2 separate regions of the Homo sapiens genome follow, and region 1 is linked to region 2. The links come from fine-mapping of genetic effects on gene expression. A gene starts in region 2. The other region holds a variant in brackets. All regions are shown on one strand. Distances are from middle to middle.

Region 1 (5,381 bases), 130 kb after region 2:
GTGGCCTAGACATCAGAATTTTCTAAAGCTCCCCATGTGATTCTAATAGGCAACCAAGGTTGAGAACCAACAGTATAAACTGAAAACTCACTGAAGGCAGGGACTAGTTGTTATTTGTCTTTGAGAGTTGAAGAGGAAAGTATTCCAGTCAAATAAAATAAGATGGCTCATGCCTGTAATCCCAGCACTTTGGGAGGCTGAGGAGCACAGATCATCTGAGGTCAGGAGTTCAAGACCAGCCTGGCCAACATGGTGAAACCCCATCTCTACTAAAAATACAAAAATTAGCCAGGTGTGGTGGCACATGCCTGTAATCCCAGCTACTCAGAGACTGAGAGGCAGGAGAATCGCTCAAACCCAGGAGGTGGAGGTAGCAGTGAGCCAAGATTGTGCCACTGCACTCCAGCCTAGGTGACAGAGCAAGGCTCCATCTCAGAAAAAAAAAAAAAAAAAAAAGACGTGAAAAGACCCTAGGGTCAGATGGAGTGTGGAGAGTTCCAAGAATTGAAAGATCACCAACAAAGCTGGAGCTCGGAAGCTGATGGAGAGATTTCAGATGAAACTAGAATTAGGAACATGAAACATTTTTAGAACTACACTGCAGCTTGAGACTCTTCCTATCCAATCTTCCTTCCTTCCTTCCCTCTCTCCCTCACAGGGGTCCGACCAGCATCTCTGAGTAAAGTCTTCCCTCATCTCCTTCAGCTCCCTCTCCTCCCTCCCCACCAAATTCCTTGCATATCTAATCCTGTCTTGGCATATGCTTCTCACAAGAAGACATAATCAGGTTGCCATTTTGGAAAGATCACTCTGCATGTTGTGTGAAAATGAACTGGAGGAGTGTCGGAGTAAATTTGGGAAGATTTAATAGAAGGTAATACCAATAAACCAGGAAAGACTTAGTGGTGACTTGTATTGGGGCGCGTCAGCCCAGGCTCACATTACGCACGAAAGATACTAGATTTAAAGAGGGATTTCAAGTTTCAGATCCCACCTGCCTCTTGCCTGAGATAGTGCTCCTCACATCCTACCAGAGTGTCTCAAGATCTAAAAGAAGCAGAAAGTATATCTGGAAGGTTTCCATACCTGCAGCTAAACCAAGTTGAGGAAAACAGGCATTGACACCATTGAATTTGGGATGGTTTCCTATAGCTAGTTTTTTTTTTTTAATCGACTTTTATTTTCAGTTCCAGGGCACATAGGCAGGATATGCAGGTTTGTTACATAGGTAAATGTGTGCCACAGCAATTCACTGCACAGATCATCCCATTGTAGCAGGATGAGCCGCAGACAAAACCCCTCAGACACCGAGTTAAAGAAGGAAGGGCTTTATTCAGCTGGGAGAATCGGTGGACTCACGTCTCAAAAACCGAGCTCCCTGAGTGAGCAATTCCTGTCCCTTTTAAGGGCTTACAACTCTAAGAGGGTCTGCATGAGAGGGTCGTGATCGATTGAGCAAGCAGGGAGTACGTGACTGGGGGCTGTATGCACCAGTAATCAGAAAGGAACAGAACAGGACAGGGATTTTCATGATGCTTTTCCATACAATGTCTGAAATCTATAGATAACACAAGCAGTTAGGTCAGGGGTTGATTTTTGACTACCAGGCCCAGGGCGCAGTGCTGGGCTGTCTGCCTGTGGATTCCATTTCTGCCTTTTAGTTTTTACTTCTTATTTCTTTGGAGGCAGAAACTGGGCATAAGACAATATGAGGGGTGGTTTTCTCCCTTACCATCACCCAGGTATTAAGCCCAATATGTATTAGCTATTCTTCTCAAGGCTTTCCCTCCCCACACACCCCTCCCCTGACAGGCCCCAGTGTATGTTGTTTCCCCCATGTGTCCATGTGTTCTCATTGTTCAGCTCCCACTTATAAATGACAACACATAGTATTTGGTTTTCTGTTCCTTTGTGAGTTTGCTGAGGATAGTGGCTTCCAGCTCCATCCATGTCCCTGCAAACAACATGATCTCATTCCTTTTATGCCTGCTTAGTATTCCATGGTGTATATGTACCCCATTTTCTTTATCCAGTCTATCATTGATGGGCATTTGGGTTGATTCCATGTCTTTGCTATTGTGAATAATGCTGCAATGAACATATGTGTGCATGTATCTCTATAATAGAATGATTTATATTCCTTTGGGTATATGCCCAGTAATGGGATTGCCTACAGCTAGTTTTAAAACCATCTACAATTCAGATCGTCTTCAAGGTTTTAGCAGCATGAGATTTTTCAGTGACAGAGATTATAGCATTGCAGTTGGACCACTGTAATCATAGAAGCATCAGCATTCCTACTGCTAACATGGTATTTCAAGAGCTATAAAACTTACAGCATGCTGCAATGTGGCATGCAAAGTTAGCCACAAAGTGTATACATTTCCTAAAAAGACTCAATCACTCCATTCTTAAAAAGCAAAAATGGAAATGTAAGTAAAACTTTGTTTAGAATTCATTTAATTTAAAAAGGGTAACCTCTATTACACAATCAGACTTGGTGAATGCAAACCTTCACATGAAGAAGCAAGGTTTTTCTATAGGTATTCCATCAGAGAACCACTTTAAAAAGTACGTTTGTTGGACTTCTAGAAAACCCAATTGCTTCTCAATTCAGCATTTCCCCTTGAGAGCATTAAAAAGAGCATTTTTATAGGCCCTTATTTTCTTTCTTGGGGGAAAAATATCATCACTATCCCTGATTCTTAAAGATAATAGAGGTACTGAGTTTAATTTCCAAAAAAAAGATGGGAAATGAAGGCAAAAATCCTGACACCCAATGTTCCATACTAATGCTATTGAGTTATTTCTTATTCCCATCAGAGAGTGGACTTTAGAATGAAAACTGAGCCTGCTGTTTTATTTTTCGTTTACATTCATGTGGTGGCAGCATCTTAACTGGTGCTGCTATAG[C/T]TGAATGAGAAGCAAATACATATCAAAGCTCACTTTCCTCATGGGTAGAAAGCTATTTGACTAACAGATTTCAGCGGTGCCTTGGTGACAAGAAAAGAAAAAACCCTCCAAGGATTCTGGAGGAAGTTGAAAGGCAGGAGGTCAGGCTTCCACCTGCAGGTAGAATGAGTGTTTGCCATTTCCTCAAATTCCTTGAGACCACCCACTGGCATGAAGGATGGTGAGCAAAGCCTGGGGAATGAAGACTATCTTTCAAAAGGTGCTTCCTGGGAGATTTAAGGGAGAAAAAGAAAATAATTTGTTGGTTTGTATGTCAGCTAGCAAGGCTTTTGATCATTCAGTTGGGACAGTTCTGCCTGGAAGGGATCAATCTCTTTTTATTCCAAAGACTAACACCAACAGATACAAATCAAAGGAGGTATTCTTTCAACAAAGGAAATTGCAGAAAGGATGCCTAGGCTTAATTAAAATATAACCTTTTGTTTTAAGGACTTTTCTTTCCCTTGCAAAAGGGAATGCACTCTCTGAAGAAGCATATGCCAGCACTGGTGAGATACAGTTCTTCAACAAGTAAGGATCTGTCTACATTCGGGGCACGTCTTGGGGAAGCCTTGAAGGGAATCGTGCCTGGAGTCCCATCTGACTTAACTCATCATCACAGTCCTTCATCACAACATAATGAGTGTTATTACTTCCTCATGTGGCCTGTGGGCTTTGTTAATTAAAGAATGGAAAGGTAAGTAGTTCCAACCTTTTGCTTTTAATTAATCAAAAGATGTGTTTTCCATCTTCGTGTTGCTGGGCAGCAAGTAAAGTATTTAGTCTGCCTTCCAATACCCAGAAGAGTTCCGTGAAAAAAACTCAGCTGCTGTTTTGGGACTGCATAGACTACATAGCAGATGACTGGCTTTATCTTTTCTTTCTAAAGTTTAATTAATTGTATTGGCCAGTCTGCTGCCTACAATGTAATAGTATTTAGAGAAAAAGAAAGTATTTTCTCATATCATCTCATCAGTACAAATAAAGCCTTCTTAAACCAAAAGTTTATATCTTAGAGTTTCTTGGGCATTTACCATAGTGCTAGGTAATTAGGAGACACTCAGCACAAGGAAAGAAGTGGAACTTACATTTATTGAGTGCCTGCTATGCCAAAACTGGTGCTCTTTTTGTTATATTGTCTTGCCTTTCCGCTCATTTGACTTATTAAAACTTCTATCATTAGGGTCATTCCTCCACATTAAAACACTCTCTGCATTTTAAATAGAAACATATACCTGGAGGGAAAACACATTAATCCATGAACAAGCATCATACCTTAGCGAAGACAGTACCTCAGGGAGTGAGCAGGGCACTAGTATATTTCCTTTTGGAGGGAAGTTAGAAAAAGCCCTAAAGCTGGGGTAGCAAATCGGTTTTCTCTAGTGTGCCAGCCCTGTACAATTAGTGTTGCTGCTCCCTGGAGCTCTGCTTTGAGAATCAGGCAGGAGGCAGAGTCTTAGCTCTGCAGGAAAGAGAATTGCAATTGCCTAATGATGTCAGACCTGCTGCATGCTTCAGTTGCTAAAAGGAAAACTTCAGACAAATTAAATTTAACAGGGTCTAATTGAACAAAGAACAATTCACGAATTGGGCAGCCCTCAAAACTAGAACAAGTTCAGAAAAACTTTGGCCTGCAATGTGGTCAGATAGCATTTATGAACAGAAGATGGAAGTGAGGTACAGAGCTCCATTGATTACAGCTGGTGTTTGCCTTATTCAGCATTTGCTTTATGTGAACATGGTGTTTTGAGTTGGCTGCCTGTGACTGACTGAAGCTCAGCTGCTGTGATTGGCTGTGACTCATTTGTGACAAAAGTATATGCCTAAGCCAGGTTTTCAGTTAGTGTGAGTACTAAGTTACATTGCATTTCATTAGTAAGGACTCAGGTATGGAGGCATTCTCAGGTCAAATTTAGTTTAACAATCCCCCCAAATTTAGTTTAACAATGCCACCTCTCAAAACCTGGGGCATTGATACCACTCTCTGTCACCATCATAAACAAACTTATTTGGTCTCAGCATGAAATTCACAAGTCATGACATCACACCAGTTGAATAATTCTTTATGTTCTTGATGATCAAGTCAAAGTGAGACCACTCAACACTCAGTGGATGGCTGCATACAAATATTTAAGACTTGAGAGGATATGGTACACCAGGGGAGCTACTATGATGACTATCAGAAGGACAACACCAAAAATTCCAAAAGCCTGAGGTGTACTCTCTAACAGGAGCCTCTGCCAACCAAATCAATTTGACCCAAATCAAAGTTCAGGCAATATAGGTGTAGCAGGACAAGATGCAGACAAAACCCCTCAGACACCGAGTTAAAGAAGGAAGCAGTTTATTCGGCCGGGAGCATTGGCAAGACTCCTGTCTCAAGAGCTGAGCTCCCTGAGTGAGCAATTCCTGCCCCTTTTAAGGGCTCA
Region 2 (5,381 bases):
AGAGAAGTAAACAGAAAACAACCATTCTGGAAGAAAAAAAACGTCCTTATAGCAAGATAGATTACCATTGTTATCAACACCAAATTCAACTGCTGCAGAAGAACCTCACTCAGAGGAAACCGAGTTAGGAGAGAATTTAGTTCCTCTTTTTCTTGCACCAAAAAATAAATTTTATGAATATTTCTCAATTAGTATTTGATTAGGAAAACCTGTAGAGGGCGTCCTTGCACCAAGAGCCATAGAGGTTTGCGCAGAACTAGAAAAAAATGTTAAAACCACTCGCTCCGAGTTAAAGAAAATGCCTATTGTGCTGTGAAATTATTATCTTTACCTGGGTGACACTGGCATTATAACATTAAAGTGTTTTAAAAGTAGCCTAATGTTCATACATTATATACATGAATATTCATAGAAATAAAAAATAATGCAATGTTGGGAAACAGGTAAATATTTTTATTGTAAAGGAAGAATCACTGTGAAGCTTTGGATGCAAATAGACTTAATTATGATTTATTTATCAGTATGAGGTATAAGTTACTAAGAGAATGGGCTTTGAAATCAGAGTGTCTGGGATTTGAACCCTTACTCTCATTTACCAGCTGGATATCCACAGTCAACTTACTGGACTTTTTGAGCCCTCTTTCCTCGTCAGTAAAATAAGAATAATAGTAGTACCTACTTAAGAGTTGTGAGGATTAAGTAAGCACTTAAAATAAAAGTACTTTAAAAATTAAGACACTGCAAGTTCAAATCAGTCATAGACTTCTTGTCTAATTCCTTTTTTCCTTTTTTTTTTTTCTATTGGTTGGTTGTATAGCTGCAAATATTTCCTCATTGGAAATCTATATTCTCAGAACCTAACACTGATTTAACTTGATGCCTGCACATGTCCACCATCTCTTCTGTTGTTTCTGTTTGTTTTTCCCTCTTGAGGCATCTGCTACTCTATAAAGGACTGATTGAAACACCACGCCCAGCCCCAGACATTTGATCCTTGAGGCATTTGTCACAGCTTCGGGTACTAAAGAACAAACACAAGTAAATGAACCTTTTATGAGTCCGAAGGCTAAGTTTTTTAATTAAAAACAAAACAAAACAAAACCCTTTTGCTTCCGTTTTCTTTGTGCATCCGAGGAATTAGGCAGGAGGCAAAAATCAGTTCTTTCTGCTGGGCCAGGTGGATAGGTTATGCTGCAGCCCACTGCCGGCCAAGCATGCTTCTCACAGACGAGGCCAGAGCCTTGGTTTTGCCCCCACGCACCTGTGAATTCGGCAACTTTTAAAAAATTATTTTATTTATTTATTTATATATTTTTTGAGACGGAGTCTCGCTCTATCGCCCAGGCTGGAGTGCAGTGCCACGATCTTGGCTTAATGCAACCTCCGCCTCCCGGTTCAAGTGATTCTCCTGCCTCAGCCTCCCGGGTAGCTAGGACTACAGGCCCCCGCCACCATGCCCAGCTAATTTTTGCATTTTTAGTAGAGACGGGGTTTCACCACGCTGGCCAAGCTGGTCTCGAACTCCTGACCTCAGGTGATCCGCCCGCCTTGGCCTCCCAAAGTGCAGGGATTACAGGCGTGAGCCATCGCGCCCGGCCGAATTCAGCAACTTTTAAAAAATATCAGCAAACGTGAAGATATCCACGATGTTAGAGGAGCCCTACCCCGGAGGGTCAGGTACAGCTATCGTCCAGGGCCCAGGGCACTCTTCCGGGCACTGCCGGGTTATCAGGGAGACAGACGGGAATCCCCAAATGCTGGGTGTCGGGCAAGTACCAGCTGGACGCCCTGCGCCTCGAGCCAAGGCCAGCGCCTGCCATCGGCACCATCGGACAGTCGAGCCTCGAGTTTTAACTGCTTGGGAGCGCGCAAAGTGCCAGCCTATCGCAGAACGGAGCGCATAGGGTTGGCGGAGAGAGGAATCCTACTGGCTGAAAGGGAGACGAAGGGCAATTTGCGCCTTCAGTGAGCGCCGGAGGAGGAACAGGAGTCATCACCTCATCATCATCATCATCATCATCATCACCATCACCATCACCATCATCAGCACTCAGTCAAGCCCAGCGTTGTCTGCTCTCCCCATTTCCCTCCCCCGAAGCCTCCCTTGGCCCGAGGAGGTGGCGAGTGATGTCCCAGGGGTCTCTGAGTGCCCTTCTCCGGGTCCGCCAGCCCTACACGCCCACTTCGCGGGCGCTCCACTGGGCGCACCGCACTGTGAATGCAGCCTCGGGGGTCCCTCGCGGCCCCGCCCCCGGGGGGGCCCCACAGCGCCCCCAAGTGGCGGCCGCCCAGGCCTCGCGGGCCCCACTCCTCGCTCGCACCTCGCTCGCGCCAGCCCTTCCCGCTCTTCTGTTCTCGCTCTATTTGCCCCGCTGACTGCTGGCCTCGCCAGCTTTGCCAGTCTTACGTCTCTGCCGCCCCCACTCCCGCCCGCGCCCCATCTTCTTGCGCGACTCGCGCCCGCTGGTCCCCCCCTCCTCCTCCCGCGTCCTGCCTGCCCCCTCCTCCTGCTCTCGCAGGCTCCTTGGCACCCAGGCCGGGAGGCGACGCGCCCAGCCGTCTAAACGGGAACAGCCCTGGCTGAGGGAGCTGCAGCGCAGCAGAGTATCTGACGGCGCCAGGTTGCGTAGGTGCGGCACGAGGAGTTTTCCCGGCAGCGAGGAGGTCCTGAGCAGCATGGCCCGGAGGAGCGCCTTCCCTGCCGCCGCGCTCTGGCTCTGGAGCATCCTCCTGTGCCTGCTGGCACTGCGGGCGGAGGCCGGGCCGCCGCAGGAGGAGAGCCTGTACCTATGGATCGATGCTCACCAGGCAAGAGTACTCATAGGTAAGGCCCCCGCCTCCAGCGCCTTCCCCTGCCTATGTCCTCCTCTCTCCACTCTTCAAGAAAGAGGGATACCTGCGTTTCTTGTGTTTTAAAACTTAATTTCCACAAAAGAGTGTTCCCCTCTTTTAATTAGATATTTTCCATCTGAAAGCTTATAAACTTCTCTTTTAAGAAACCAAAGCTGATCTAGTGTTCTGATCATGCTGTTGTTAATTTTTATAGCCCTGCGTTTTTAGGTGCACCCGGCATTTTTTTGCGTCGGTTAACTCCATGTCCATCCCTTTTCCCTGAAAGCATGGGTCTGTTGGCATCATTCTCATCATCCACAGAGAAAAATTAATCTTAGTAGCGTTGATGGTACTGAAGGCAGATGCTTGTGAACAGAAATGACCCACACTAATTCTTTGGTTTTCTTTTTGCTTGAAACTTCTGATTTAGATGATTTCAAGTCTACCTGGTTTGATCGTTTTATTATTTTAAAAACCAGGATTTGAAGAAGATATCCTGATTGTTTCAGAGGGGAAAATGGCACCTTTTACACATGATTTCAGAAAAGCACAACAGAGAATGCCAGCTATTCCTGTCAATATCCATTCCATGAATTTTACCTGGCAAGCTGCAGGGCAGGTAAGTTCTGAGAAAATTACCCTTTAATATTTCCACTGCCTTATGGCAGGTGGAAATAGTACTGTATAGTGTGTAGCCTGGTACATTTTACAGTTATTAAGAGAAATTTCTCATCTGATTGCCAAAGCAAATAAAGAATTAATTTCCATTTATTTCAAGTTGCCATATCAATTAATGATCTTCAAAAGAAAAGAACAAGCCTTGTGCCTAAGCCCATTATTTTGATAAGACTCAGTGTCCTGAGGCTGCTGGAAATATAAAGACCTCCAATACCAACATCACTGTGTTTCTGTGATCATTGACATTAAAATTTAACATACTTAAAGGACTCTTTTTGCATAGTAGTTTCTAATCACTTGTGACATTCTTCATACTTTACAACAAATTTTAAAGTTTGTAAGTATTTTTGACATTGTGCACTTTTAAAAAGTCAGTATGTTGAATGTTATTCACTGGAACGTGAATGTTGCATATTTCTGGTAGAAGTTAGACCCAAAAGGTGTCATGTAAGAACGTTATAAAATATTGCAGCCTATGTTTTCAAGTTACCATTTTAAATGCTTTCATATGGAAAAGAAAACTGGAATCTATTTTTTATGAAGAAGCATTCCTTTTATTCCTTAGCACATTAGCATCTTTTATATGTTACCTTTTGTACATTTTTATGGCTTCTAATTTTAGAAAGAAAGAATAAAATGCTTATGTAAATTTAATTTCTTTTGTACAATTGGAGAATTTACTCTAGAGGACAAATGGTAAGCAATGCATTCTTCAGCTTATTAGTTGGTAGAATGTGTCTACTATGAAAATCATTATAATTATAATTAAAACCACATTTTTCGGTCTTTTATTCTAAAGTTCCTTAAATGATTATTTTCAAGAAGAATGTGATACCGAAAACACTTTATAAAAAATAACTATTTTGAATTGAGAAACCACTTTGTTTCCCTCTAATTACCTGTTGTGGTATAGACATGACCTTTTTAGCTGTCTTTTTCCCTTCAAGTCTGTTCTCTTTTTCTTCTTCTTCTGAAATAGATCAAATCTAGAACCTTCAACACTTCCATTGCTATGTGGTTAAAAAAAATTGAGGTTTTGGATTCACTGAGGTTTATAACAGGAAAGTCATCTATTGTTAATACCCCCATTTTGCAGATAGGTTCATCGAGGTTTCCATTGCTCTATAGGGAGATTATTCCTTTTCTCCCTACAAGTCCCTCTTCATAGATACTTCATAAACAATTAAGTTGGGAATATTGTGAAATCAGTAATAAACCAACGAATGGCCTTTCATTTTCTCCTTTTCAGCTGAATCTGTTTACTTATGGCTGACCGCTCATCAGATGGTCATTAACTAAGTGGCCAATTAATTCTATATTTTTGAAAAGACATTTTTTAACCTATACCTTTATGGGTTCGTAAGAATCAATAAAAGGCAGTTTGAACTGCACCCTTCCATCTGAAAGGGTTTGGTAACTGGTTAACTGTAGGAAAAGCAGAAAGTGCCAATAGCTCTCTCGTGCGCACTCTCTCTCTCTCCCCCTCTCCCTCCCTCCTCTCTCTATCTCTTTCTCTCTCACTTATGTTTGTCTGTTGAAGAATAGAATTTGAAGCAAAGGCTTAAATTCCATGTTGCTTTTATCCTATTGCTTAACAGTATAATGCATGTTTGCAAATATTGGCATACTGGTGAGTACAAAATGGACTGACATGTCATACAATCTCAGGAATATGTCCTGCAGGGAATTAGGGAGGAGAGTGGAACTGGCATGAAGAGGAAGTTTGTAATATTTTTTTCTCCTGCTTAAGTGTTGCTCACCTATGTGGATGATCTAATGATGCAGGACAATGTTAGCACCTCAATTAAGCTACCTTTCTCTCTCTACTCATTCGGCTTTGAATAGGTTACCACAACTAACTACATAAAATC

What was found.
Region 1: its variant is fine-mapped to the expression of WIF1 in nasal epithelium (TOPMed, PIP above 0.99).

The regions. Positions count from the first base shown.
Region 1 is chr12:64,990,545-64,995,925 of GRCh38, reverse strand. It overlaps LINC02231 (long intergenic non-protein coding RNA 2231), which reads left to right and starts at 3,635. Exons shown (of 4, transcript NR_146276.1): 1 at 3,635-3,649. LOC107984522 (a long non-coding RNA gene) reads right to left here. Exons shown (of 2, transcript XR_001749177.2): 2 at 5,280-5,381. RefSeq lists an enhancer at 2,772-3,298. The variant C/T (reference allele first, on the strand shown) is at 2,914.
Region 2 is chr12:65,118,487-65,123,867 of GRCh38, reverse strand. It overlaps WIF1 (Wnt inhibitory factor 1), which reads left to right and starts at 2,563. Exons shown (of 10, transcript NM_007191.5): 1 at 2,563-2,824; 2 at 3,312-3,451. The coding sequence starts at 2,677. RefSeq lists a silencer at 2,243-2,402.